Homo sapiens: one gene and its partners. Each later gene encodes a partner of the first gene's protein in a complex. Each region holds a gene or a part of one and is shown in the gene's direction. Other genes may lie near its edges. The genes, in order: CWC27, SRRM2, SNRNP200 and RBM48.

Region 1 (7,022 bases):
TGTAGCTTCTAAGTTATAGGGGTCATAAAAATTAACTAGTTTCATAGTATGCAAATTATTATGAGAATTTAGTGCTTCAAGTTGGTAATTCAACAGACTTCTTTTAAATGATATATCATTTTTTGAAAGAAAAGGTGTTTCTAAAATACTATTTTCAGTCAATAGAAGAGTAAGATTCTTACTTATAAAACTTTAGTTTGTATTAAACTTTTCAGGAATACATCTTTTGCTAACCATATTATATCATTGCTAGGTTTTATGTAAATTTGTTAACTTGTTATTTAGGAATACTGTTTATTTCCCCCCTCATGATTATATTGTACATTCTTTGCAGAGCATGAAGGGCAAAAGCAAAAGTAGTCATGACTTGCTTAAGGATGATCCACATCTCAGTTCTGTTCCAGTTGTAGAAAGGTTAGTCCATTGTTGGTATGATCCTAAGTTCTTAATTTTCTGGCTCAGATAATTTTCTTGCTTCTTCTGTGAGTAAACAGTCAGTCCTCATAAGTCAAAAATTTTTAAGCCAGCCAAAAAAATAAAGCATTTTGATAACAGAGATAGAGAACTTCAAGCTTGATAGAGAGAAACAAACGCTCTAGTCACTTTCGCACTTGCTCTCTACCTCTGTTGAATGAATTACATTTAAAATTGTTTTACCATTACATGTTAGGACTAGAAACTGTTTGCTTTAACAGTGTAATGCTTAATTCAAGGTTGTTTTGCTACCTTTTCCTTGAAGCATTTTTGCCTTAATTGTATCATGAATGAACAAATTACAGTTAAAGGTTTTTGTGAAGAAGTTACCAGTTTGGGGGCCAGTCCACTGACTATAAATTCTCACATACTTTGAGGAGTTAACAGAAAGTTGTCTTGCTACCTTTGTTGCTTCTCTTTGAGAAGGGAAAACGTCTTGGTGTTAGATGTAATAGCACAAGATAAACTGGGCCAGTATCTCAAGGGGCACTACAATGCTGTTGTACTCAGTTTAGCTCATTTTCGAAACTCCTGTTTTAAGACAATCTTTTCTTAATACCCTTCTATTTGAAGGATTTGGGGGTTTTTTTAGTCAGAATATTTCAAGCCAATAAAAGAAATTGTTTTTTGCAGACCATTGATCATAAAAATAACACTGTCGGTTGTTGTTTGCTTTTTTCCTTTCAAATTCTAGTGAACGCATATATTTGCTAATGAATCATACTTATTCCACTTATAAAAAATGACTCTAAAGAATGTTTCCATCTGTTCTATAATGCCTTTCTTAAATTCCTATGTTGAAATACATTTTTGGAATGTTATTCCCAGCAAACTATTCTAGATTTTTGGGTTACAAAATAATTGTGTTAGTTTTACCTTGAAACTAAAATTTGTTTTGCTTATTTTTTTTATAGTGAAAAAGGTGATGCACCAGATTTAGTTGATGTAAGTATTTATTTTGGTATTAATATAGTTTGAACAATTCATAGAAAGTACAAAATTTTTACAAAAACTTAATTTTGTTCTTAAAAAGTAACGTATATTACTTTTATAGTTATATATGTCAAATTTTGGAAAAATATGAAAAACAGAAATTATTTAGGTGTTAGACTATTTCCTTACTCTAGGGGTGTGCGTGTGTGTGTGTGTATATCTCTCTACAACATTAGAATCTTATATATGAATTTCTAGTCTGTTTTTTTCTCCCCCTCACATAACATTACGTTAATACTCAAACTTCAGATGTTATAAATTTATTGTATTAAAAGTTTAAATATTGGTGTGTGGGCATCCTACATGATATATGGGAAATGCTTGGATCAGTAATTTATAGTAGTGTCTCCTTTTTATATACACATTTCAAAAGATTCTCATTCAAGAGTGTAGTGATCTTTATTAGTTGTAGTGGCTAACAAAGCTAACAAAACAGAAGGAAGATTTTCCTTTAATACATAAGAGTCAAGTTTTTCAAATTATACATATGCCACTTTTTATATAAAAACCCATTAATCTGTGCATTGTATAATTTACTAGGAAGTACATAACTTTCCATGCATGAACACAGATTTATCTATTATCACAGTCAAAAGAGAAGGCTCTCTATGGCTATCAGTAGTAGATAGAGAGAGGATGAATATCTGACCTTGTCAAGAAAAGCTTCCTGGAAGAGATGATGCTATTTATGTCTTATATGAGAGTTAGGAGTTAGCTAAGTCAGAAAAGAAAGTGATGAAGGGGGTGAGGTCCCTCTAGCTCAGAGAATAGCATATGCTAAAGCATGGAAATAAGGAGAGATCATACCTTATTTAGGAAATACAAACGGAAATTTAAAGTTTCAAGGAGTCTGTCTTGTGAAGAGCAAGGAAGAAGAGTATTGAAGGTAAGGGGAACTGCATATACAAAATGGTCCGAAGCAGGAGAGTTTGGTGTGTTCTAAGAGCTGCAAGCAGGCCAGCGTGAACAGGGTGTGGTGACAGGCCAGAGCTTCATTACAGAGCTTCATAGGCCATGGTGAGGGGTTTGAGTTTTTTCCTAAAAGGAAGTGAGGAACAGTTGAAAGGTGTTTGTTAAAAAGAAGGATGCTATGATCAATTTTGCATTTCAGGAAGATCACTATTGGCGATATTATAGAGGACAAATTAGAGGAAACAGACTGATACTGGGAAGCTATTGTAGGAGGAGAGCTTGATATAAGACCACAGCTGTGAGATGGGAAAGAGGTAGATTTGAAAGAGGTCTAGGAGGTGACTGATTCTACACTATGAGGTGAGGGAGGAGTAGTCCAAGACAACCACAAGGTTTCTGGTTTGAGCAACTTGTTAGATGGGTGCAAAAGAAAGCATAGGGTTGAGGTGGAGAAAAGGATGAAAAATAATGAGCTTAATTTTATACATTTCAAGATTGAGGTAATTTGGAGACATCTGTGTAACATAATATGGGTCTAGAAGTTAGGATCAATGTATAGGATAGAAAGTAAAAGTATAGATTTGCTCTTAATATCATGGGTGAGTGACTAAAACTGTGAATCCTTTCCCAGGAAAATGTACTACATTCACAACCAAAATTATATGAATTTGCAGGGAATTTTTTTTAGATCTCCTGAGGCCTGAGCATGGAAGGCCTAGGTTGGTGGTTGTCACCTTTTAGTGCTTAAGAATTACTTAAACATCTTGTTGAAAACATTCGTAATTCCTACCCCAGAGATTTTGGTTCAATAAGTCTGCAATGAGGGCTAGAATTTTAGGTGTTAATAAACAACTATGTAATACCATCTAAGGACCAGACTTTGAGGACCAGTGCTTTAGGGGTCCACAAGTCTCAAATTAAGAATCCTGCTTCACTACGACTCACCAGATCAAAGAAAGAATCACAAAAGAAAAATGATCCACTTGGGGTTATTTCTTCCTTCTTCTCTCCCCTCTTTCTTCCCTTTGTTCCTCCATCTGTCAATGCTGGGCACTATTCTAGGAGTTGAAGATACAGCAGTAAGCAAAACAGGCCAGAATTTTAGCTCTCATGGAGTGTTTGCTGTAATTGGATGACAGACAATACACATGCAAATAATTAAAATATATGGTGTATCAGATAGGTGATAAGTACTTTGGAAAATAAGCCAGGGAAGATGAAAGAGTACTGGAGGTAAGTGTGTGGTTCTACCATTTTAATAGGTTAATCTCATCACCAAGAGGGTAACATTTGAGCAAAGATCTGAAGGAGATGAAAGAGCAAGCAATGAAGAGATATCTGGAATAGAGTATTTGTTTCAGGCTGGAGAGAACAACAACTCCAAAGTTGGCTAGTGTTGGTGGGCTGGAGTTGTAGGAGATTATGTCAGGGAGGTTTAGATTGCATAGGGCCTTGAGTGAGTTGGGGACCCACTAGAGGGTTTTCACAAGAGAAGTGATTGCTGTGACTTGGATTATAGAAATCTCAGCTTCTGCACTACACCTCTTCTACTTGAATTGATCCCTGTTGAGGTCAGTATGCTGGCCAACTGCCTTCAAAAGCCACATTTCCCACTGAGATAAGAATAGGAATATAGACAGAATAGCCCGAGTGACACAGAGGGAGAAGTCTGCTGCACAAAGGAGCTGGGCATGAGTTGAGCGAACAGCCTTTCCTGGGGTATCCCATAATTACATAGTTGGCTTAGAGCAGAACCCAGGGCTATTCCCACCTGTAGCAGATTCTTCAAGGGCTTATAATTCAAAACAAAAGAAAACAAAATAAAAAAAAAAACCTAGTTTAGAATGCAATAAGGAGATTCAGTGGATGCAATAGATCTCTAGAAATGAAAGGGGAAATTGAGCACCTGGCAAATACTCATTTTCCATTTCTACAGGATGGAGAAGATGAAAGTGCAGAGCATGATGAATATATTGATGGTGATGAAAAGAACCTGATGAGAGAAAGAATTGCCAAAAAATTAAAAAAGGACACAAGTGCGAATGTTAAATCAGCTGGAGAAGGAGAAGTGGAGAAGAAATCAGTCAGCCGCAGGTGAGTCAGTTACTGTGCTAGATATCAGAGTTTTTGTCTTTTTATATTTCACTTTAATTCAGATTGAATCCTCTCTTCAGCTAATTTTTAAAATACTATTTTCATAATGTTTGATAAACATAACAGTTGTACAAATTGGCCCATTAGCAGGCCTAAAATAAAATACACCAAGCTTAAAGTAAACATAACAATGATCCTATGAGTTCAATTCCATTTTATTTCTCTCTGATCCTTTTTTAGAAAGGCTCTATACTTTCATATATATAGGGTAATAATGTATTAGCTAGATGTGGAAGAATGCATTTGTTAAATACCAATGAGAGCAGTAGAGTAATTGTATAGAAAGAAAAGAGACATCCTCAAATAATTTCGGTAAGCAAAATTTGTCAAAACTGATGAAGAAAATGAGTGAGCCTGAAAACATTCTTAAATATCTTTTCAAGTCTGATTTACCAAATACCATATACCTATCCTAAGCTCAGTAGTATCATAAAATAAATTTCAGCAAATGGTGAAAAGTTTACTGTCTGGTGATGAAAGTTTGTTGGATTTATGACTCAACATTTTATTCTCCTGAAATTCAACTTAATTGAAAAATTATCTCTTTTGTGATTCTATTTCAACTTTATAGTATACATTTTAAATAATATTGCTTTAAAAAACAATAGTATTTGTTTTCTTCAAATACTATTTGGGGATAATATGAATGTAACTACATTTAAATAACATTCTTTTTCCCTATCATGTTTCTCAACCACATGTAGAAAAACTTAAAAAGGATTTCCACGCTATCATTGCATAGCTCCCTCAATTTTTTCTTTATGTAATCAAATAAAAATGATTCCCAGAAATTTCCACTAAAAGCATAGCTTTTAACATTTAGAAATGGTACTTAGGAGTCATCTTAAATGTCTTTTTTCCAGCAATATTCACCTGACACTCAAGTAATCACTGTTGAATAATTTTACATACTAGATTATATTATATATACCATACATAGTAGCTAATATAGACTAAAGATTTTAGTGATCATATGCATGCTTCTAGATTCATAGAGTTGAAAAACCTCTCATTCACACTGTAACTTTTAGTTAAATCATGAATATAATTATGGATACATAATGTTTTATTCCTCTCATTCAAGGCATGTGTTTTCTGATTTTAAAAAATTATGAATTTTTTTAAAGGTTAGGTTTATAATGTAACAAAAATATATTTAAAAATTTTAATAGATGAGCCAACCAAATATTTATTTATGTTAGATTTAAGTGTTCCTTAAACTCCCAACTCAGTCTTGTAGGCTTTAATCAATTTCAAATACTTATATACCCTATAATATAAACTATAATTTAGCAATGCTAAATTTTGTATAAGAACTAAAGTTCATTTTTAATGTACCTTTCATAAGTGTCTTTAAAAAATTGTTTACCTAATATTAAGAAAAGTCAAAGTTTGCATTTTCCAAAATTGTGTTCACTCTTACAATTAAGGGTTATTCTTAAAAGATTTCCTTGGCTGTAGTATGGGCCTGATGACCAAACATGGCATTGATAGCTAGATTTAGGAATCTGATCTATCATGAGAATACTGGAGAGCCACTGAAGTTTTTACAGGCAAATGATATATTGAGATTGTATTTAGTATGGAGAATGGATTGATAGAGGAGTGTTTTGGGCTATTATACAAAATACCATAGACTGGATGACTTAACAGACATTTAAAGCTTAGTTTTTATGGTAATTTCTTACATAGGAACATATATATCCACTTACTTATGTAAACAATTTTTCTCTTTTTATAAATCAGTATAATTTGCAAAATTAAAATCACATAATTTGTATATTCACTGTAGAGGAAAAAGTTATATTCAAGTGCATTGCAAGTCTACTAAGAAAATTAAATAAATTTAAAAAGTACGTTAAATACTTTTCTACTTAGAAAAGTAAATTAAATAAGAAGTCTCCAAAGGTGGCTTGAATATTTTAGGTAAACATGAGTATTGTGGACATTGTTGGATTCTTTTAGGTAAAATAATTGGCAAAGTGTGCCTTTGTAAATGGTGCAGACAGCACACATTTATTTATAACTGTTCTGTTCCCCCACATTTTCATTATTCACATTCTCTACTCTCCCTCCTTCATCCTATCTGTCCTACCTACAAAGAGAAACAAAAGAAAAATAAGGTCAGGATAGAGGAGAAAGTACAGAATTTCAAAAGGAAGAAACAGTTTTTTCCTCTAGTGTAGAAATTTCCATGATTGTCTCATGACCACGTATTTTTTTCAGTTCATAAAGTTGCCAAAATCAGACCCTGGCATGGTGGCTCATGCCTGTAATCCCAGCTGCTCAGCAGGCTGAGGTGGGAGGATTGCTTGAGCCTAGGAGCTCTAGGCTGCAGTGAGCTATGATCCTGTATGGGCAACAGAGCAAGACCCTGTCTCTAAAAAAATAAAAATAAATTTTAATAAATTTCCAAATCATTAGTACTTTTGGTTATTTATACCAGCGAGTCTCTGAAGTTAACTTTATGGTTAAAAAATAAAACAACA
Region 2 (7,817 bases), on another chromosome or scaffold:
AAAGCGTCAAGCTTGGCAGTCATAATTCAATTGGATTTTCATAATTTACTTACTTTTTGTAGTGATGGGGTTTTGCTATGTTGCCTAGGCTGGTCTCGAACTCATGGGCTCAATCAAGTGATTCTCCAGCCTCAGCCTCCCAAGCAGCTGGGATCACGGGTGTGCCATTGTGCTAGGCTTTGAAATTCTGTAAATTTCACTTTGGGAGGCCAAGGCGGGTGGATCATGAGGTCAGGACACGGAGACCATCCTGGCTAACACAGTGAAACCCTGTCTCTACTAAAAAAACACAAAAAATTAGCAGGGCGTGGTGGCGGGTGCCTGTAGTCCCAGCTACTTGGGAGGCTGAGGCAGGAGAATGGCATGAACCTGGGAGGCGGAGCTTGCAGTGAGCCAAGATAGCACCACTGCACTCCAGCCTGGGTGACAGAGCGAGACTCCTTCCCAAAAAACAACAACAACAAAAAAGAAACTTTGTAAATTTATGACTGTAACCTCTTTCAAAGAGACTAGGAATCTTAAGAAAATAAAATGGTGCTTGGCCGGGCGCGATGGCTCACGCCTGTAATCCCAGCACTTTGGGCGGCTGAGGCGGGCGGATCACGACATCAGGAGATCGAGACCATCCTGGCTAACACGGCGAAACCCCCTCTCTACTAAAAATACAAAAAATTAGCCGGGCATGGTGGCGGGCGCCTGTAGTCCCAGCTACTCGGAAGGCTGAGGCAGGAGAATGGCATGAACCTGGGTGGCGGAGCTGGCAGTGAGCCGAGATCGCGCCACTGCACTCCAGCCTGGGCGAAGGAGCGAGACTCCGTCTCAAAAAAAAAAAAAAAAAGAAAGAAAATAAAATGAGTGCTTTTCTCTGTTTGTTTTTCAGAAATGGGAGGTGGTGGGGGGAGTCTCACTATGTTGCCCAGGGCTGGTCTTGAACTCCTGGGCCTCAAGCATCCCAAAGTGCTGGGATTACAGGTGTGAGCCACCACACCTGGCCCCAATTAGTGCTTTAAAAGCTCTCTAAACCCTTACATCACAAAGAATATCCCTCCTCCCCCTCCAGAAAAGAAAGGGGTGGCTGGACAGTATCGACCTCACCAGATGTGCTACACCAAGGCCAGAAAGAGCCGCTGAAGTGGCTTGGACATGGGCCATGCCAGCTGCACGTGGAAGGCCATTCCTCCCGGCACTCATTTCCAGTGTTTCATATCTGCTTGTCCTGGGTACAGGAACCAGGGCATGTTTCAGAGGTTCAGAGCCAAGTACTTTTGGGGTCTGGGTACTGCACAGAGAGGGCCCAGGCACTTGTTCTGCTTGCCGTGTGCCCCACCATGCCTGCGCTGAGGACCAGCCTCAGTCCATCCTGCCCAGAAGGCTGGGAGCACACATGGGGCCTGGAAGCCAGAAGGCCTCTCAAGAGACCCTGCTTGCAGCCCTGTGGGAGGGGTTGGATGGGGGCTGGGGTCTCCAGATAAAAAGGTAATTCGAGAAACCCTCCCAGGCAGCTGGGAGGTGGGAGGCTATGGCATTAACCCCAGGGATTGTCCTTCCTGAAGGTCTGGTCTCCCTCTGGAGGGCAGGATGCTTTTGCAGACATCATCCTCACCCCCCTACCCTGTTCCCATCCTCCCTAGCACCTGTCCTGGCTGGTAATTGTCTAGTTATTTGTAATGTAAGCTCCAGGAAGCCAGTGTGCAAATGGGAGGTGCTCCACTCACCAAAGGCTTCCCAGTCTTGGGCCCCAGGCCAGGGGGGTCTGGAGGAAGGCTTGCACCACAGGGTCCTCCACCAGGCCATGGAACTGGAAGCTGAAGGCCCACACAAGGCCACTGCCTGGGAGAACAAGCATAGGCAAGTGTGCCCGTCATGGACTGTCACAGAGCGGAGGGAAAAGAGGCCACGGGAAGGACCAGCCTTGGAAGGCCCAACAAAGGAGTTGTGATGTCAACCTGAGGGTGTCTGGAAGAGTTTTAAGCAGTTCAGAAGTTTGCATTTTAGGAACATCACTCCGAGGTGACAGCCGCTAGGATGTCAGCCATGGCTGTCTCTGGGGGTGGTGCCCCTGTGTGCTTTTTTTCTTTTTGCTGATTTGTATATTTCCTGCAGTGAATGTGGTTTACCTGTGCATGTCACTTTCCTAGGGCTGCCATAAGTCACCACGAACTTGGTGGCTTCAAACCACAGAAGTGGGTTCCCCTACAGCTCTGGAGGCCAGAAAGTGGAGACCAAGGTGTGGACAGGGTTGTGCCTCCTCCAAAGGCTCTGGGAGAGGATCTGCAGGGCCTCTCCCAGCTTCTGGCTCCTCCTGGAGATCCCTGGCATGGGCACCGCTCCGAATCTCTGCCTGGGTCTCCTACGGCCTCTTCCCCCGGGTGCCTGTGTCCTCTTGTCTTCTTGTAAGGATGTCAGTCATTGGATTTACGGCCTACCCTAAATTCATGATGATTTCATCTTCAGATCTTTAACTCAATTACATCTGCAAAATCTCTTATTCCAAATAAGGTCACCTTCCGAATGTCTAGGTGGTTGTGAAGTTTTGGGGCACCACCGTCCACCACACTACAGTGAATAAAAAAATAAAGTTTAAAGGGAAACTAAAAAATCATTCTAGGGCTGGGTGCCATGGCTCACACCTGTAATCCCAGCACTTTGGGAGGTTAAGGGGGGAGGACAGTTTGAGCCCAGGAGTTCAAGACCAGCCTGGGCAACACAGGGAGACACAATCTCTACAAAAAACTCCACCTCTACTAAAAATAAAAAAATGAGCTGGGTGGTGGCGTGCGCCTGTAATCCCAGCTACTTGGGAGGCTGAGGTACAAGAATTGTAGTGCGTGGAGATCGTGCCACTGCACTCCAGCCCGGGGTTAGGAGTGAGACTCTGTCCCAAAAAAATAAAATAGACAAAAGACACGAAGAGAAATTTCTCCAAAGATGTACAAACGGCCAACAAGCACATCAAAAGATTCTCAGCATCATCAGTCATTAGGGTACTGCAAACCATGTTTTGTCACTATTCACGGGCATTAAATGTGCTGACTCACGCACAAAACATTCCATAAAGAATATCAGTGGGGGTACAGGAAAGGGTCTCACTGGAGGTGCTGGGGTCTTTAACCAGAAAGGCAAAGCCTTTGCCACTTTACTATGCCACTCCAGAGTTGCGGCCGGCTTACAGAAGCACCGTCCATAGATGCAGAGTTCAGACACTCCAATCTGCGATCAGAGCTCCTGCAGGAGATGGGGGTGGTGGGGGGGAGGGTCTCCCGGCTCTAGCATCTGAGATAAGTACATCCTCCCACGGGCAAGTGAAAAACAAATCTTAAAGCCGGATACGGGCCGGGCGTGGTGGCTCACGCCTGTAATATCAGCACTTTGGGAGGCTGAGGTGGGCAGATCACCTGAGGTCAGGAAATCGAGACCAGCCTGACCAATATAGTGAAGCCCCGTCTTTACTAAAAATACAAAAATTAGCCAGGCGTGGTGGCACACGCCTGTAATCCCAGCTACTCGGAAGACTGAGACACGAGAATCACTTCAACCTGAGAGACAGGTTGCAGTGAGCCGACAACACACCATTGCACTCCAGCCTGGGTGACAAGTGCGAAACCACGTGAAAAAAGAAAGAACAACAACAACAACAAAAAACAAGGGCCAGATAGGGTGTCATGCACGGGTAGTCCCAGCTACTTGGGAGGCTGAGGTCGGAGGATCGCTTGAGCCCCAAATTCGAGAACAGCCTGGGCAAAACCCTGCCTCTTAAAAACACCCCCAAATCGTAATAACAAATATAAATCCTTGCACTCAAATGGACAGTTCATTACGTGGTACCGCGTCCTGTTGCGGATCAAGGCCACCTGAGTTGGTTAGGACAGCTAAGCGGGACGTCCAGGGCTGCTCGCCAGCGGTGGGTCTAGATATGAACTTGTGCTTGAGCAGCCCAGCGTCTTACAACTCTGCTGTGAGGACGGCTGGCTGATTATCAGGCCCAGAATCACGGGCTTAGAAACATTAACAGGAAGTACGGTACCGAAAAGTGGAAACTTTAAGGTGCTTATTATTTTCCTCCTGCCTTGTTCCTGTATGTGCCGCTTCACCGGTATCACGTCCTGGGTCTGGTGGGACCCCGGCCTGGCTGCCCTACCGGAAGCTAAGAAAACTCCTCCCCCAGGGGTGGCCGTCGGGCCTCAGCCCGGTCTACAGCGGGAGAACGTGGCCCATGCTACGGGTAACTGGTTGGGCCCCTGGTGCAGGTCTAGGGCCTGCAGCCAGGCTCGGGGCCTCCGGGGGTGCCCGCTGGCTGGGGTCTGAGGCGGCTTCTCTCGGGTACGGGAAGGCGGACTGCTGTGCAGCTGCGGGCTCGCTCGGGAAACCCAAAGTCACACGAAAGCGGCAGCACCACCGCGGCTGGGATATCGTCTCCCAACATGGGGAGACAAAATGGCCGCCACGCCCCGAGCCGAAATTACATCCGGGCTCCGCGACACGCCCGAACCACAACTCCCAGAATGCTCTGCATCGACAGCGGGAGACGAGACGCGCTCGGGCGTCGCTTTGCTGCCGCTAGGCCCTGTGCTCCTCCCCGCAGCGGAAGGCCTACGAATACGCGGTGTCTTACGTCGCTTCCTCCGTTCTTCGTTGCACTGGCCAACGGGACGCTTAGTCTTTCGGCAACGGGGTGAAACCTTCCTTGTGCCTGAAAAAACGGTACTTCGCGGTGTGGCTTCGGCGCCTGCGCAAAAGGCCGCGGGGCGCACTCCAGTTCCCGGCAGGCCCCGCGACGCGCGTTTGCGTGCTGACGCACGCAGTTAGTCGTGCTGACGTGCAGCGCGGCCCAGGCGGGGTGCGAGTGGCGCAGTTGGAGCCCGTTGCGGCCCCTGAGGAAGCGAGGAGGCGTCGGCGTCGGCTGAGGCGGGCGGACCGGCGAGGCGAGGCGGCGGCCCCAGGCCCGAGGGACTCGGGAGCTCGAGCAGCGGCGGCGGCAAGACCTCTCCCCCTCGGAGGCGGCGGGCGGAGGCGGCGGGTGAGAGGGTGAGGGAGCCAGCGAGCCGGGTGGGGGAGGGGCGGCGGCCCCGGCGCGAGGCCAAAGCGCGCGGAGAACTGCCCAGGCCGCCGAGCTCCTCCGCGCGCACGCGCGCTCGACGCCCTTCGCTGGCGCGGACGCCCTCGCCTCCCTTCCCCCTTCCCGCCGTTCCTGTCGCGCGCGGGCTTCACCCCCCCCCGCCCCTCCCCCATGACAACGGCGTTCGCAGCCGCCTGTACTCGGGTTCGCGAGCGCCCTTGGTGAGGGGGGAGGGCGCGCGCCTCGGCTTCACTCCTCCCCCCAACATGTGCCGCCGAGGTGGCCTTCCTGCAGCTGCCGTTTTCGGCCCTTAAGTGGCGGGGAAGGGGCGGCGGCGGGGGGCTTGCTCCTGGACCCTTGCCCCCGGTTCCAGATCTCCTTTCCTCGGGCTTCTCTTCGGCGTTGGGCTGCCCGTGTCGGGGGCCTCCCAGACTGCGGGACGCCGCGCAGCCCCCTCCCCCATTCCGCAAGGCCGAAAATAGGCCCCCGGCGCTGCGGGGAGGGCCTTGAACTTCGTGGGCCGGATTTAAATGGTTTAGGATTCCCGGCTATCAGCCTTTGAGTTGTTAGTGGCGGGGAGAAACCCCAAATCTTAAAAACTGTGAAGAAAGTGAACGTGTTCAGTTTACATTTGTAAGGTAGACCGTGCGTTCCCTTTTTACACTTTTTCAACGTCTCCCGAGAATTCGTGTTCAAACTAAGGAGGCTTTTGGAGACCTTCGTTGGGAAGAAAACGCCAGACTCATATATAAGTTTTCTGGTTGGTTTCAGGCGTTCTTTGGCACACAGCTCTTCTGAAGCTTGGTTTCCACTCGGCTTCAGTTAGGACGAATCTGGATCAGAATTTCAGAGTGTTGTGTTGTCTTTCATCCTAAGTGCGTGGGCTTAGGGCTCTTCTAAAGCTACTATTTTAGCTTTCTGGGTTCTTTGTGTCCACTCAGCCGCTCTGGAGCGCCCCGGTGCTGAGCTGGCTGTGCTTGCTGATGTCCATTTTTTTCGACAACCCTTGTCTCCCCTTTTTCTCCCCTTTTGGTACCGTTTTCTTTTTTGCATATTTTACTGTTGAATTCAAATATATCTTTCTACTTCATTGTTAGCTTACCACTCGGATAATTTCCCAACAGAAAAGGGTGTTTTTGTCTTCCTTTGTACTTTTTACTTTCTGCTTTTAACTTGGGTAACTTTTGCATATCCACTGTCTATGGCCCCCACTTTAAGAGTTTTGTAATATCGTTTGGTTTGGTGATTTGTGTGTGGTGTTGATCTTCCTACTTTCTGTGTCTTAACACACCCCTTAGATGCCGTGGGGTCGTCGTCTTTTTTTGTGGGGTGGACTAGGTGGCTCATTCCCTAAAAGTTCTCCGAAACATTGTGACCTAATATCCTTTGCTTAGCACCTACTGGTTTTTCTTTTTTTTTTTTTTCCGAGACGGAGTCTAGCTCTGTTGGCAGGCCGGAGTGCAGTGGCGCGATCTCGGCTCACTGCAACCTTCCGCCTCCCGGGTTCAAGCGATTCTCCTGCTTCAGCCTCTGGAGTTGCTGAGATTACAGGCAATCGCCGCCGCCCAGCTAATTTTTGTATTTTTGGTAGAGATGGAGTTTCACCGTGTTGGCCAGGCTGGTGTCAATCTCCTGATCTGGTGATCCGCCCACCTCGGCCTCCCAAAGTGCAGGTGTTACAGGCGTGAGCCACCGTACCCGGCCTGGTTTTCCTTTCTTAAGGAGTGGGGGGATTTTTGTGTGAGGTGGTATGGAAGTGTGGGTGAATGGTTAAGCTGAAGAATTAAGTGCAGGTCAAAAACATGCTGCAGGGGAAGCAGAAATTAAGTGGGGTAGGGGAGAGGCGAAGAAGGACCTAGTTTTAAACCGTGAGGAGGATTGGTACTAGAAGATGAAAATGAGGATTGGGGTGTAGAGAAATTGATTTTTTGAGCCATACAGTTTTTCATTTTTTCCTGGATTTCTGCTTGCCTTATCCAGGTTTAGCCTCTTCTGTCACCTTCTGCTTTCAATATTGGGTCTGCTACTGGGCTTGGGTAGGGACCCATCCTTAGGCGCATGCGCTAGTATATTTTTCCAAACATTTGTATGATGCTTCTTCATTCTGGAATTTTCTAAATGCATCCTTCCCTTCTATCCAGTTCTTTTACATCTTTGATTACTCTCTCCGCTTTACGTATTCCTTAGGGTTTTTTCTTAGTAGTATTTTCTCATATATGCATGTTCTAGGAAACTATCTTGGAGAGGATGAGGGTGAGAAAGAGAGTATATGTAATAGGAGAAAGGAATAGAGTATGTGTAGCCAAGGAATCTAACCAGGAAAGCTGGGACTTGAGAATTTTTCAGAATCACGTTAGGGTTGGGACAAGTTGAAAGGCTAGAACCTGGGAGGAGGCATGGGGTTAACACAGGAGAGAAGGAAGAGGCAGGGCTGAGAGAGAAAAACTAGGAAGTGCTATCCAGGGGATTGGTGGGGAAAGCCAACGGTTGGACATTAATGAAAGTGGGGTGTAGAGAGGGTTTCTACATAGATTTAGGGCAAGGTATATGGAGAAGGTATGGGAACGGTTGGAACAGAGGAGGCTGGTTTGATGTGTTTAAATAGAGCAGAGTTGAAAACAGGTAATATTTGACAGCTGGCAAGACAGGGAGGAACTGCAAATTGTTGTAAATCCTATTGAGAGGAAGGAAATTGAAGGAATAAAATATCAGGATAGTTGATAGGATCTTTAAATATTTGGAATCAAGGAAATGGCCCTTA
Region 3 (7,446 bases), on another chromosome or scaffold:
ACTGCACCAGGCCTTAATTTAATATATATTTTTTGAGACAGAGTCTCACTCTGTCGCCCAGGCTTGAGTGCAGTGGCAGGATCCCGGCTCACTGCAACCTTTACCTCCCAGGTTCAAGTAATTCTCCTGCCTCAGCCTCCCAAGTAGTTGGGACTACAGGCGTGCACCACCACACCTGGCTAATTTTTGTATTTTAATAGAGACAGGGGGCTGGGCTTGGTGGCTCACGCCTGTGATCCCAGCACTTTGGAAGGCCGAGGCGGGTGGATCACCTGAGGTCAGGAGTTCAAGACCAGCCTGGCCAACATGGCGAAACCCCGTCTCTACTAAAAATACAAAAATTAGCTGGGCGTGGTGGCGCGCACCTACAATCCCAGCTAATGAGGAGACTGAGGCAGGAGAATCGCTTGAACCCAGGAGGTGGAGGTTGCAGTGAGGCAAGATTGTGCCACTGCACTCCAGCCTGGGCAACAGCAAGACTCCATCTCAAAAATAAAAAAATAAAAAATAGAGACAGGATTTCACCATGTTGGCCAGGCTGGTCTTGAACTCCTGACCTCAAGTGATCTGCCCATCTCAGCCTCCCAAAGGGTTGGGATTACAGGCATGAGCCACTGTCCCTGGCCTTAATATGTTTTTGAGATTCATTCATGTTGTGGCACACAGCAGTACTTCATTGCTTTTTGTGGTTGAATAATATATTGTATTGTATAGAAATAGCACATTCTGCTTATCCATCATCAGCTGATGAACATTTGGGTTGTTGCAATATTTTGGCTATTGTGAGTAGTGCTGCTATGGACATTTGTGTACAAATGTTTATGTAGACATGTTTTCAGTTCTGTTGGGTAGATTCCTAGGAGTAGAATCGCTGGGTCATAGGGTAACTCTATGTTTAACTTTCTTTTTTTTTTGAGGAGTCTCGCACTGTCACTCAGGCTGGAGTGTAATGGCACGATCTTGGCTCACCGCAACCTCTGCCTCCCAGGTTCAAGCAATTCTCCTGCTTCAGCCTCCCGAGTGGCCGGGATTACAGGCATGTGCCACCATGCCCAGCTAATTTTTATTTTTATTTATTTATTTAGTTTGAGATGGAGGTTCACTCTTTTTGCCCAGGCTGGAGTGCAATGGCATGCTCTCAGCTCACTGCAACCTCCGCCTCCTGGGTTTAAGTGATTCTCCTGCCTCAGCCTCCCGAGTGGCTAGGACTACAGGCTCACGCCACCACGCCCAGCTAATGTTTGTATTTTTAGTAGGGACAGGGTTTCATCATGTTGGCCAGGCTGGTCTCAAACTCCTGACCTCGTGATCCACCCGCCGCGGCCTCCCTAAGTGCTAGGGTTACAGGGGTGAACCACCACGCATGGCTGTTGAGCATTTTTTCATGTGCTTATTGGCCAGTGTATATTTTCTCTGGAGAAACGTCTGTTCAAATTCTTTGCCCAGACCAGGAAAGGTGGCTCAGCCTGTAATCCCAACACTTTGAGAGGCTGAGGTGGGTGGATCGCTTGACCCCAGGAGTTCGAGAGCAGCCTGGGCAACATGCCAAAACCCCATCTCTACTAACAATACAAAAAATTAGCTGGGTGTGGTGTGTGCCTGTAGTCCCAGCTACTTGGGAGGCTGAAGTAGAAGGATCACCTGAGCCTGAAGAGATTGAGGCTGCAGTAAGCCATGATCGTGCCACTGCACTCCAGCCTGAGCAACACAGTGAGATCCCCCATCTCAAAAAAAAAAAAAAAAAAGTAAAATAAATTTCTCTTTGCTTGTGGCTCCTTTAGGTCCTGGCTGACTGTCATTTTCCTGGGCCTCTCTTGCTTCCTGAAGACTTTTCTCTTCCCTTTTCTACATCCCAGTCTAACCCCAGCTCCTCTTTCCTTTCTCATGTGGGGCAGTGACTCCTTTGACTTGTCTTCACTAGACACCTTCCCCCATTTTCAACAAGTTGGCCCAGGAAGTTTCCCTGAGCCCCTTCCGCAGAGTGAGGAAGCACGGCTGTCATTTTTCTTTTCTATCTTTAATTTAAAAATTGTTTTTATTTTTTGAGGGAAGAGTCTTGCTATGTGGGTCAGCCTGGAGTGCAGTGGCACAATCCTAGCTCACTGCAGCCTTGAAGTCCTGGGCTCAAGCAATCCTCCTGCCTCAGCCTTCCAAGTTGTTGGGACTACAGGCACACACTACCAGGCCTGGCTACTTTTTAATTTTTTGTAGAAACAGGGCCTCACTATGTTACCCAAGCTGGTCTCAAACTCCTGGCCTCAAGCAATCTTCTTTCCTCAGCCTCCTAAAGTGTTGGGGTTATAGGCATGAGCCACCACACCCAGCCTGTTGTTTTCTTTTCAAAATCATAATTATTTTCTTCCTTATTTACATTTTAGTGTGACGATTGTTCCAGGGCTGCAGTCTCCTCTTGTGGAAAATAAGGGAACCAGACTACTCCATCTCTAAGGCTCCTACCAGGTCTAACATACTATGGAAACTTATAAGTCCATCTGAATGACTAAATGCAGGATTTACATTTGGTAGAGCCTGATTAGAGAGGAAAAGAAAAGATGGGGAAAGTTTCCTTTTTTTCTTGCTTCACAGGTTTGCCCACAGCCCAGCTGCATCTGTGAACATGAATGCTACTTCTACAGAAACAGAGTGGAATCTCCGAAATACCTTTGAGACCCTTTCGTGTCAGGTGGGTGGGCCACAGCCTGATCATGGAATAAAAGTCAGCCTTAAGGATTCAGATTTCAATAACTTTCAGTGAACCCCACCTTGAGTCAGGCACTTTGCTAGGTGCTTTTAAACACACTATCCCATTTAATCACAATGGGAGGAAGGTTTTATTGCCTCAATTTTTTTTTTTTTAAGACAAAGAGTCTCACTCTGTCATCCAGGCTGGAGTGCAGAGTTTGATCTCGGCTCACTGCAACCTCCACCTCCCAGGTTCAAGTGATTCTCCTGCCTCAGCCTCCTGAGTAGCTGGGATTACAGGCACCCACTACCACGCCTGGCTAATTTTTGTATTTTTAGTAGTGACAGGGTTTCACCATGTGGGCCAGGCTGGTCTCAAACTCCTGACCTCAAGTGATCCGCCTGCCTTGGCCTCCCAGAGTGCTGGGATTACAGGCGTGAGCCAGCGTGTCCAGCCAATTGCCTCAATTTTAAGGATGAGGAAAATGGTGCTCACCGAGAGGCCAGGTAGCTAGCTACTTCAAAGTCACACAGCCACTGAGGAGCAGAGCCATGAGGACTCGACTGTCCCTTGGGAAGACGAGTTATTAAAAAAAAAACAAACACCCACCAAAGCAGCAAACTCCATGCCTACAGGGGCTGGGCAAGTAAAAATAAGGAGATGGGCAGGCATGAGAAAACAGGAGCAGTGGGAAGGACTTGCCTATTCTCTGACCTTGGCAGCTGCTGACCAGCAGCAGGTCATGCCATGCAGCAGTGTGGGTGTCATGTGGCTGATTTTCTAGTATCTCAACTGATGGGGGAGAGCCAGAGTTTGCATGAAATTATCCCAATTTTTAAAGAAGGAGCCAACAGTGAGCCAAACACGATACCACTACAGAACAAATCTGGTCTAGGGGACTGCTATTGAGGATGAATTCCTTTGGCTTAACACCCATCCTCCTGTTCATTCATCTTCTCAAAAGCAAACATGCTCTAAGTGAGGAGGGAGGTCACCTTCAGCCATAAGGCGCCATTCTACTGGCGAGAAGTGGTGGGGAATGTGGGACAGAGAAGACTTTGTAGCTGGGGAAGAAATTAAGTCATAGTCACCAAGGATTTGGCCCTGCCTTCACCGGTTTCCCTGGGCGGCAGGGAGGGCCCTACCATAGAATGTTACCGACAAGTGGGAGCAAATGGGGGCCCCGGCCCTGTTCGTTCAGCTGGGTGAAAACGAGGGTCTTGGGGGCACAGGTTTAGGTGGGATTGGTGGGGGATAGTAGCTTTCTTTTTCAATTGTTGAACACAGAAGAGAAACCCAAAGCAAGGCGCCAATCATTAAAACACACAAACACAGACACACGCGCAAGTCACCTTGCTCGCTGGGTACTTTAGTTACCTCAAACGGAAATGGGGTTTTCGGCCCCTCTTTTCCTGCCTACCTCATGGGACTGTTGCCAAAGAGGAAGGAACCGGAAGGAAAGGTCTTGGGACAGGACAGGGGCTAAGCAGCCGTGCATTCGTTATGATGTGAGGGGTGCCGGGGGCTGGAGACTGAGGTCGGGGAGAGCACGGGCCCTGGGTCCTTAGTGCCAGCGGGCGGCCAGAACCAGAGTGCGGGGGTCTAGGGATTCGGGGACCCAGACGCACCAGGCCCACATATCCCGCTCAGAAGGGTGCGGAAAGCCGCGCGCACACGGCAGGGACACGCCCCAGACACGCCCCGCCCCGCACTTCTGGGGCGCGACCCGGAAGCGGAAGGGAACCCGTTTCTTTTCCTTCCCCAGTGCGTCTTTCCTGCGTCGTTCCGGCGCGGCGGGAGCAGAGATCTGCGGCCGTTTGCAGCTTGCGGTAGGGAGGCGTGGTGGTCTGAAGCCTCCGAGCAGCCGCGGCCATGGCGGATGTAACCGCCCGTAGTCTGCAATACGAGTACAAGGCGGTGCGTTTGGTCTTGGGGAAGGATTCCAGGCTCAGGAGTCCAATGGGGAGGGGGAGGCTGAAAAAGGGAGTTTCAGTCTGAAGGCCTACAGGAGAGCCACGAAAACGAAGGGGAAATGGAATCGGGGTGAAGGTGGGGGTTATACGATGACGTGAATAACCTACTGGGGTCTGGGGAGCGCTAAGATCTCTCTAGGAGGAGTTTCTCGAGTACCTTCAACGCTAAGCCCTCCCCCTTCCACACGTCACTCCCAACCCACTCACTACTTTTCACAGGTGTGGGTTATGATGGGCGCTGTTAGGAACAAGAATTGTTTAGCTGATTCGACAGCGCATAAGACTTATTCAGCTGTACGCTTCTGCACAGCGTTATACTATGCAATTCTTAAGGAAAATATATTTTTATTACGATTAGTGATGATAAGCAACTAGTTACTACGATTTTTTCCATCAGCTGGGGTAACTATGATAGTAGGAATTGGCCCTGCTCATGTCAAAGCTTCAATAATGTTTTGATCTTTTCAGAACTCGAATCTTGTGCTCCAAGCTGACCGTTCTCTCATTGACCGGACCCGCCGGGATGAACCCACAGGAGAGGTGCTGTCCCTTGTTGGGAAGCTGGAGGGCACCCGTATGGGAGACAAGGCTCAACGGACCAAACCGCAGATGCAGGAGGAAAGAAGAGCCAAGTGAGTGCCAAGGGGATACTATTTTTTCCTTCAGATCCAAAGTCTCTTCCCTTTAACATTCGAGCAGCATTTTTGCTGGAATGCTTGGTGTAAGATCAGTGGCATTAAAACAATTCAGTGAAGGTAAAAACAGACCAGGAGAGTTTAAAGATTTTTTGGCCTTAACAAGTGCATCTCAAGTGGAAAATAACTTGTTGGTACCTTTTTCTTACATGTGTGTTTCTGGTCCATAGACAGATCTTAATTTTCTTCAGGGTATTTTCAAGACCCTTGCTATTCCTATGTCCCAGTAATTCGTTTTCCTTTTTTCCCATTACTAACTTCCTACCCCTACTTTTTCCATTTACTCTTGTCCACGTTCTACCTATTTTGTTGTAACAAACTAATTTAAGCATCCATAGTATGAAAGACAGGTTTCTTTCTTAGTTTGCATTTTTTTCCTTTATTTTTTTTTTTTAAGATTTCTTGGGGATATGTTTCAAAAACTTACCTTTACCTCATCATTATCTTTTGATCCTGAATATCTTGGTGTCTTGCTCCCTTTCCTATGATGAAGTTTCCAAAATTCCTAGGCTTAGTTTGATTAAAGTAGTTATGTTTGAAATGAGTTAATACATTATCTCCACTTTGTGCTATATCTTCTTTTCCAGTTTTGTTATACTTTGTTGATAGTCAACGGCAGTAGATTCTGTTAGAGCTTGGTTCTCTAGCTAGAAAGGGAAAATGCATTGGAGAGGTGAAAAACTAGTCAAAATCCTATTATATAATAGTCTCATACAATGTATGAAGGGTTGTACTTTTTTTTTTTTTTTTTTTGAGACGGAATCTCACTCTGTCACCCAGGCTGGAGTGCAGTGGCGTGATCTCTCTCACGGCAACCTCCACCTCCCGGGTTCAAGCGATTCTCCTGCCTCAGCCTCCTGAGTAGCTGGGATTACAGGCGCTCGCCACTGTGCCCGGCTAATTTTTGTATATTTAGTAGATACAGGGTTTCTCCATGTTGGCCAGGTTGGTCTTGAACTCCTGACCTCAGGTGATCCGCCTGCCTTGGCCTCCCAAAATGTTGGGATTACAGGCGTGAACCACTGCACCTGGCCAAAGGGTTGTATTTTTTAAATGAGAAACATCTCATTGTAATGTTTAGTGCATCTAGTGAGAAGATGATAGGGAATTTTTCTTTTTGTCACTGTGTCCCATAAAGAAATACTCCTGCAAGTGATTAAGGCCAAACGGAATCATTTGCTGAGGCTCAGATACCTGTTTTCAGATATTAACTTCTTGCCATGAAGCTGAGGAGAGGAGGGTGGGCTTGATCCAGTCTTCCCTTGGGGACGAAAGGTTCTGCCATTCAATATCACATTGCATGTCCATTAGGCGAAGAAAGCGTGATGAGGACCGGCATGACATCAACAAGATGAAGGGTTATACTCTGCTGTCGGAGGGCATTGATGAGATGGTGGGCATCATCTACAAGCCCAAAACTAAAGAGACTCGGGAGACCTATGAGGTGCTACTCAGCTTCATCCAGGCTGCTCTTGGGGACCAGGTGAGTGTGATATTGTGAAATATATATTAGGTCTTTATTTCATTTTCTGGCATACAGCTTCTAAGATCCTTGGAATCTTCGAAGTGCTAAGTATCTTTTTGTATGCTGATGAGTTGACTGATGGCTGGCAGCACTTAGGTAGTTCAGAATGGAGGCTGGTCATTTAATCAATCATGCCTACATAATGAAGCCTCCATAAAAACCCCAAAAGGACTAGGTTTAGAGAGTTTGTGGATAGCTGCACACATGGAGGTTTCTGGAGGGTGGTGCGCCTGAGAGGGCCTGGTAGCGCCACACCCATTCCCACATGCCTGCCCTGTGTACCTCTTCCATCTGTTGTCTTTTGGTAGGCATCTTTTGTAATATGCCTTATAGTAAAAATAAGTGTTTCCCTGATCTGCTCTAGAAAATTAGTTGAACCCCAAAAGGGGATTGTGGAAACCTCGATTTATAGCTGTATAGTGAGAAGCACAGGTCAAACAACCTGTGCTTGTGACTGGCATCATGAAGTGGGAGGCAGGCTTGTGCGACTGAGTCCTCAGTCTGTGGGATCTGACGCTATCTCCAGGTAGTTAGTGTTGGAACGGAATTGAATTTGAGGACCCCCAGCTT
Region 4 (7,022 bases), on another chromosome or scaffold:
AGCGCTTATGACATTGCCTGGCATATGGTGAAATCTCAACAAGTATTTATCATTATCCCTGGATATAGAAGTAGTTAAATTTATTGTAGTACCTGGCCAGTCATAGATGTTTAGTAAGTATTTATTGACTGAATAACATTCTTCTCATTTTCTCATTGTTATATATTTAATAGTTCCTCAGTTATTGAATGTTTTATGATTATAGTATCTTTCATCTGATTTTTAAGGCATGAATCCCATCACAGAAATACATAGTGCTGAAAAAGCTTAATTGGGTATGAACCAACTCTTCAGGGCCACAGAGAAAAGCTCCATTTTATGACCACAGTTTACATACTTCAGGCCAACCAGCTGGGTCCTTAGTTGTTTAAAGACTAGGGAACAAAGAGGCTCAAAGGGAAGGAAAGGGGAGGCTCTACGAGTACATACTCGATCAATGGGATGAATACTGTCCACAAGCAGAGCATCTTAATTCCCAATCCACAGGATATATATACACGTAGCAAAAGCTGGACTTTGCTCTTTAGATCCAGATATTGCATACTAGTTAAGCTTTCATCCCAAGTAAATCTAGATTAAAAAACTATGCTATCTTGTATTTCCATTCAGGACAGCCAAGAGAAAAATGGATGAACAGAGTTTCTTCGGTGGATTGCTTCATGTGTGCTATGCTCCAGAATTTGAAACAGTTGAAGAAACTAGAAAAAAACTACAAATGCGGAAGGCATATGTAGTAAAAACTACTGAAAATAAAGGTATGGAAAGCATATTGCTAAATGCCTCCTGTGTGTCAGGCACTCTGCCAGGTGTGTCATCATGCAATTCCCAGTCTAGTGGTAGGAGAGGCAAGTAAACCATCACAGTATTCAGTAACTGTGAACCACAGGGTTCTCTGCAGCACACTACATAATCTGGGTTGAGAAGGGAGAAATATTGGTTCATAGAAGACTTCCTATAGTATGTGAGAAGTGGCTGAATTTTAAAGGATAAGTAGACGTTAACTAAATGGGAGAGGAAAAGATGGAAAGGCAAGCCAGGCAAGATGTTTAAATGTTTAGAGGAATAAATGAGCATCATGCATTTAAGGAACTTTAATTAATACAGTATAACCAAAGCCCAAAGGTTTCAGTGAGAGATAAGTTTAGAAAAGTGGGTAAGAAGTGAATCATGGAGGGCCTTGTGTCCCATGCTAAGGAATTAAGGCTTTGACCAGAATGCAGTGAGAAGCAGTTATGATTTGCAGTTGTCAAATCATATAGTTGTCACTGCTAATCATGGAGAAGTTCTACTTTTGACCAGCAATTGGCTAAATGCCCCCACATGCCTGTTCTACCACATAGTGATGGAGAGAAATAAAGTGGGAAAACTCTTGGAAAACTTACTCAGAAATCTGGTAAGAGAGCTGTTGAGAATCCCCAGTCATCTGCAGACATTGAACTCTAACTTGTAAGATAAGTAAATAAATAGCACCAGGAAAACTTGTATGTTTGTGTGGCAAAGGAAATTATAAAATATTAATGTGGAGAAAGACCTTTGACATTATCTGACCTGGGTCCTAATTTTTCTGGGTGAGGAAACTAAGTCTCAGAAAGTTTGTGACCTGCCTATATTATTAGAGATGAATTAAAGACAAAATAAGGGTTAAAACCCAAGCTTTGGACTCTGTCCAGAGTTTACTTTTTAACTGCTTTAATCATCTCAGTGTTGGTGACAGCCTAGGATTATCTTCATTATTTGCTCCCCTTCCTCTTAAGACCTTTTTGCTGTGCTGCTGACCTCAGAATTAAACTATGACTTGTTTGGCCTTGGACACTTTAGTTAAGCTCTCTTTCATCTGCAGCATTCTAGCCTCTACAAGATGCATTTGTATACGTGGTCTTACTTTTCAAAAACTCTTATTATGGAAATTTCAAAACACACAGGCAGAGAGACTAAGTTAACATAACTCCCATGTATTAATATTAACATTAACAATCATCAACACATAGCCAATTTCATCTTTACCACATCTTCCATACTCCATTCCTGTTGTAATCTGCTTTTGGGAGAGTAAACCAGGGAAGAGGCCCTTGCCAGCCCTAGAAGTGCGACAAGCATATTGCTTTCTTTAGTGACTAACAAACACAAGCCAAGGAGCATGATACATCCAGATAGTGGAATACTCTGAAATTGTAAAAAAAAAAAAAAAAAAAAAACCTTTCTATATAATGATGAAAAACCTCTGTAAGATCTACAGTGAAATGGAAAATGCAGAGGTGCAGAGAAATGCGTATTACAGGTTATCTTAAAGTGGGGAGAAAATGGGAGGAAGGAGGTGGCAAAGTGAGACATATTGAACAGATAAATAAAAAACAATAGTGATTACTTATGGGGATGAAACCAGACCCATGGAGAGCAAGGAAAGGGTGACACTTGATGCTATATATCTTTTTATCCGTTTTAGGTTTTAAACCATGTGAATATATACCCTTCTCAAGAAATGATTTTTTTGGAGTAGAATTTGTTAACATTTTTAAGTGATTTTTTTAAATTATATGATTCTGAATGATGAAAACAATAAACCACTTCTGTTTCCCTTTCCCTCAACTTTTAAATTGTAATATAAAGACCATTACGTGACAAAGAAGAAATTGGTTACAGAGCATAAAGACACAGAGGATTTTAGACAAGACTTCCACTCAGAGATGTCTGGATTTTGTAAAGCTGCTTTGAACACTTCTGCAGGGAACTCAAATCCTTATCTTCCGTATTCCTGTGAATTGCCTTTATGTTATTTCTCCTCAAAATGTATGTGTTCATCCGGGGGACCTGTAGACAGAGCACCAGACTCCTCTAAGGATGGTAGAAACCATCATAAAACAATGGGGCATTATAACCACAATGACTCTTTGCGGAAAACACAGATAAACTCTTTGAAAAACTCAGTGGCCTGCCCTGGTGCACAAAAGGCTATTACGTCTTCAGAGGCAGTTGACAGATTTATGCCTAGGACAACACAACTGCAGGAGCGCAAAAGAAGAAGAGAAGATGATCGTAAACTTGGAACTTTTCTTCAAACAAACCCAACTGGTAATGAGATTATGATTGGACCTCTGTTACCAGACATCTCTAAAGTGGATATGCACGATGACTCATTGAATACAACGGCGAATTTAATTCGGCATAAACTTAAAGAGGTAAGGTTATTTTTAAAAAACTATTCTAAGACACGATTTGGTTATAGGATTAAATGGAGAATTATTTGTGGGAACAATAGTACTGTAATTTTTTTTCACTTTTTAGTGTTTTGATGTGTTTTTCTACAGTTCTCTGTTGAAATAACTGAATTTGGCTAACATTTTATTTGCTTTAAACTGTTAATACTTGCTTTAAACAATGAACAGACATTTTATATCACTGTAGATACAAAATATTAAAGCAGTGGTTTCAGCCAATTAAATCAATCTGTGAGAGTGGAGCCCAGGCCTGCCATTTTTGTTAAAAGCTCCCCAGGTAGTTCTAATATGAGCCAAAGTTGAGAAGCAAAAGTATTGTAAATTATTTCTCTCAAATTTAGAGTTATTACAGTTTATATCAAATTCAAAATGCTTAATTTGCTTTTGTGATAAAGAGCAATAGAAGGTGGTGAGATTTCTAAAAATTAGGCCTCCAGGTATGCATTTCAAATGTAGACTTCTTAAATGATCGGGATCAGATTGTGCTGCCTAGGTAGTCTGTTTTTTTTTTTAATGTCATTTACATAATCATTTTCCATTTCCTAAGCACAAATGAAGTTAACATCTGAGTTAGCTTTTGAAAGACACCTTTTTGTGGGGTAGGGACTACTGTTACAAATCATAAACTGAGGGTTATGACATTCTCTTATACTTACTCCAAGATGCAGAAACTGCTTTTCACATAGTTTTACTCATATTTTACAATGTGATTAAGGGAGGCTAAGGTAGTTTAATTTCATATATGTACATTTTTTACCTAAAAATATCTGATTAAAGGTATTATTTAATAATAATTAAAATCCGTGGGCACAGTTTTGAAGCCTTCTTTAGCTTTTCAGTTTAGGCTGGGCCCAGTGCCTCACACCAATAACTTCAGCACTTTGGGAGGCTGAGGTGAGCAGATTGCTTGAGCCCAGGAGTCTGAGACCAGCCTGACCAATGTGATGAAACCCCATCTTTACCATAAATATACAAAAATTAGCCAGGCGTGGTGGTGAACTCTTGTAGCTACTTGGGAAGCTTAGGTGGAAGGGTACTTGAGTCTGGGAGGCGGAGGTTGCAGTGAGCCAAGATCATGCCACTGCACTCCAGCCTGGGTGACAGTGTGAGACCCTGTCTCAAAAAAAAAGGTTTTCAGTTTGTGCTGCCACCCTTACTTCCTTCCTTCAGTTACAGCTGAACTGAGGCATAGACATAGATACATACCTGTCTCAACCAGAGCTGATTACATTTTCAAGATAAACGTGTGAAGTCCAAATTCTAGGTCCAGAAATAGAACAACAAAAAAAAGATATTAAATACAGTTTACTATAGTTTCTAATAATTTTCCATTTCAAATGAAGACTCTTACTTTGCTTTGACTTATTGTATACTCTTTGTACACTCTTTTTCTGATGGTGTGTTTGCTTTTCCTTTTTCTCCAGGAAATTGAGGATTATACTGCTTCCTGCTCATTTCTCCAAAGGTTTTCATCCCCCCAAATCTATCAAACGTTATCAGTGTTTCAAGAATGCAAAACCAGGATATCTATCTGAATCCGTAATATAACAAGTGTCTTTAGATCTATAAAGGAATGTTAAAGTAGAGCATATGTTCACTTTTCTTCCTCCAAATTTTTTTTCTTTTTAAATAGCTTTAGAAATTTTACTGTCATCAGTATTCAAATGGAAGACTCCACTCTGTGCCTAGGTCATAGGCTGTACCTTGAACTTAGGCGAACTCTGCCTCGAAAGTGACATCAAGGATTGAACTATTGGATGTAGTCTTACCTCTTCTAATAGCTTATTTACTCCTGTGCTATAGAAACTAAGTTTTAATGGTTCTTTTTTTTTTTTAATTAGGTAATTTCATCTGTGCCAAAGCCTCCAGAGGACAAGCCAGAAGATGTACATACAAGTCATCCATTAAAACAAAGAAGAAGAATATAGAGTGCCAGCAGCAACTTAGTATTTTCTAAAAAGAACATTTATTATTTATTTTTAGCCTGTCATTTTAATTCTTCAAGAGATTTTACTGCTGGTATTTTTTAATGCACTCCTCTTTGTAATTTCATTCAAGCCATTTGTCTAAAGTCATTTCTTTGTTTTTTGGGAGATGGAGTCTTGCTCTGTTGCCCAGGCTGGAATGCAGTGGCGTGATCTCGGCTCACTGCAACCTCCACCTCCCGGGTTCAAGCGATTCTCCTGCCTCAGCCTCCTGAGTATCTGGGATTACAGGCGTGCACCACCATGCCTGGCTAAGTTTTGTGTTTTTTTTAGTAGAGATGGGTTTTCACCATATTGGTCAGGCTGGTCTCGAACTCCTGACCTTGTGATACACCTGCCTCAGCCTCCCAAAGGGATGAGCCACCGCGCCTGGCCCATTTCTTCTTTTTTTGACCCATACTTAATGTTGCAGAAACTATTCTTGTCATAACATTATCTCTCATGTACAGTAATTATATGTAAATTAATTGAAGCAAATATGGAAACTTTACAATAGAAATAAAGATAGGCAGCCAGCGTCTGTTTCCAATTATAATACAAGTATTGAATGAACCATTGAAACACTAGAAGTCAGGATGTTTCCGAATGCCAGGGTTTCAAAATCAAGACAATTCTATGAAGTAAAAAGTAGATTAGCTATTAGAACAAAGCTGAAATTAGAACCTTATATGCTTTAAATAACTTTTAAGAATTTGCTTGACCTGTGGCAATCCAAAAATACATCAGTATTTATAAATTCTAGACTTCTGTTACTACTTCTGGCATATCCACACTTTTTTCTGTCAGTGGATTACATAATTGGAAATTTCAGTACATCTAGACTGTCTCTATTTTCTTTTTCTTTTTTTATTTTTAGTAGAGACAGGGTCTCACTGTGTTGCCCAGGCAGGTATTGAACTCCTGGGCTCAAGTGATTCACCCACCTCGGCCTCCCAAAGTACTAGGATTATGGGTGTGACCCACTGTGCCTGGCCATTTTCTTTACTGATAAAAATAACTTGAGAAGGTCCATACCGTGGTGTGTTGTTTTCATTTCTCCCTATCTTTAATGGCCTCTTGCCTAGTGGATTGAATTTGAACATACCAGTTAATAAGGTTCAATTTCAGCTATGATGTACTTGTAGCAGGACGAGCTGCAGACAAAACCCCGCAGACACCAGGTTATAGAAAGAAGAGGCTTTATTCGGCCAGGAGCGTCGGCAGACTTGTGTCTCAAGAACCGTGCTCCCTGAAGAAAAAGTTCCTGGTCCTTTTAAGGGCTTACAACTGTAAGAGGGTCTGCGTGAAAGGGTTGTGATAGACGGAGCAAGTGATCTATAGGCAACACATGGTTAGAGTTGGGGGGTTAATCTTTAACCTCAGGCCTGGTCAGTGGCGTCGGTTGGTTTTGCCACTGGCTCCATTCCTGTTGTTTTTCAGCTTTTACTCCCTCCTCCTCTTCAGAGATGGGAGACAGGAAGAGAAATGGCCTCTCTCCTCACACTGATCCAAATTAACTAGGATGGCTCCAAGTGGTAGATGGTACTAACAGCAAGCTGCAGATAAGGAGGGTAGGCCCTACTTCCATGTGAGGTAATTAGATACAGTTTTTGCTGAAATCTCAGGTAAAGGATATATTAGAGACCTAAGCATAGAATTGGAAGGAGCAAATTGCTGTCTGGTTCAGGCTTCTCAGACTATAAGTTGCTATGATCTCCACCTCAGGATCTTGTTAAAATGCAGATTCTGGTGGTGGTGGTGGCCAGGGGCTGTGGGGAGGGAAAATGAGGAGTTACGGTTTAATGGGCATAGAATTTCAGTTTTGGAAGATGAAAAGAGTTCT

Evidence for each region.
Region 2: CWC27 (region 1) and SRRM2 share a complex: the UniProt entries of both Homo sapiens proteins name them as parts of the minor spliceosome.
Region 3: CWC27 (region 1) and SNRNP200 share a complex: the UniProt entries of both Homo sapiens proteins name them as parts of the minor spliceosome.
Region 4: CWC27 (region 1) and RBM48 share a complex: the UniProt entries of both Homo sapiens proteins name them as parts of the minor spliceosome.

The regions. Positions count from the first base shown.
Region 1 is NC_000005.10:64,799,914-64,806,935, forward strand, and holds part of CWC27 (spliceosome-associated protein CWC27 homolog), read left to right. Parts: intron 1-334; coding exon 335-414; intron 415-1,388; coding exon 1,389-1,419; intron 1,420-4,315; coding exon 4,316-4,473; intron 4,474-7,022. UniProt on the Homo sapiens protein: As part of the spliceosome, plays a role in pre-mRNA splicing. Probable inactive PPIase with no peptidyl-prolyl cis-trans isomerase activity. As a component of the minor spliceosome, involved in the splicing of U12-type introns in pre-mRNAs.
Region 2 is NC_000016.10:2,747,830-2,755,646, forward strand, and holds the start of SRRM2 (serine/arginine repetitive matrix protein 2), read left to right. Parts: upstream 1-4,808; 5' UTR 4,809-5,017; intron 5,018-5,076; exon of another isoform or gene 5,077-5,227; coding exon of another isoform or gene 5,228-5,277; intron 5,278-7,817. UniProt on the Homo sapiens protein: Required for pre-mRNA splicing as component of the spliceosome. As a component of the minor spliceosome, involved in the splicing of U12-type introns in pre-mRNAs.
Region 3 is NC_000002.12:96,302,547-96,309,992, reverse strand, and holds the start of SNRNP200 (U5 small nuclear ribonucleoprotein 200 kDa helicase), read left to right. Parts: upstream 1-4,446; 5' UTR 4,447-4,555; coding exon 4,556-4,600; intron 4,601-5,124; coding exon 5,125-5,288; intron 5,289-6,662; coding exon 6,663-6,834; intron 6,835-7,446. UniProt on the Homo sapiens protein: Catalyzes the ATP-dependent unwinding of U4/U6 RNA duplices, an essential step in the assembly of a catalytically active spliceosome. Plays a role in pre-mRNA splicing as a core component of precatalytic, catalytic and postcatalytic spliceosomal complexes.
Region 4 is NC_000007.14:92,531,795-92,538,816, forward strand, and holds part of RBM48 (RNA-binding protein 48), read left to right. Parts: intron 1-609; coding exon 610-755; intron 756-2,443; exon of another isoform or gene 2,444-2,607; coding exon 2,608-3,176; coding exon of another isoform or gene 3,177-3,290; exon of another isoform or gene 3,291-4,633; intron 4,634-4,639; coding exon of another isoform or gene 4,640-4,750; exon of another isoform or gene 4,751-5,056; coding exon 5,057-5,143; 3' UTR 5,144-7,022. UniProt on the Homo sapiens protein: As a component of the minor spliceosome, involved in the splicing of U12-type introns in pre-mRNAs.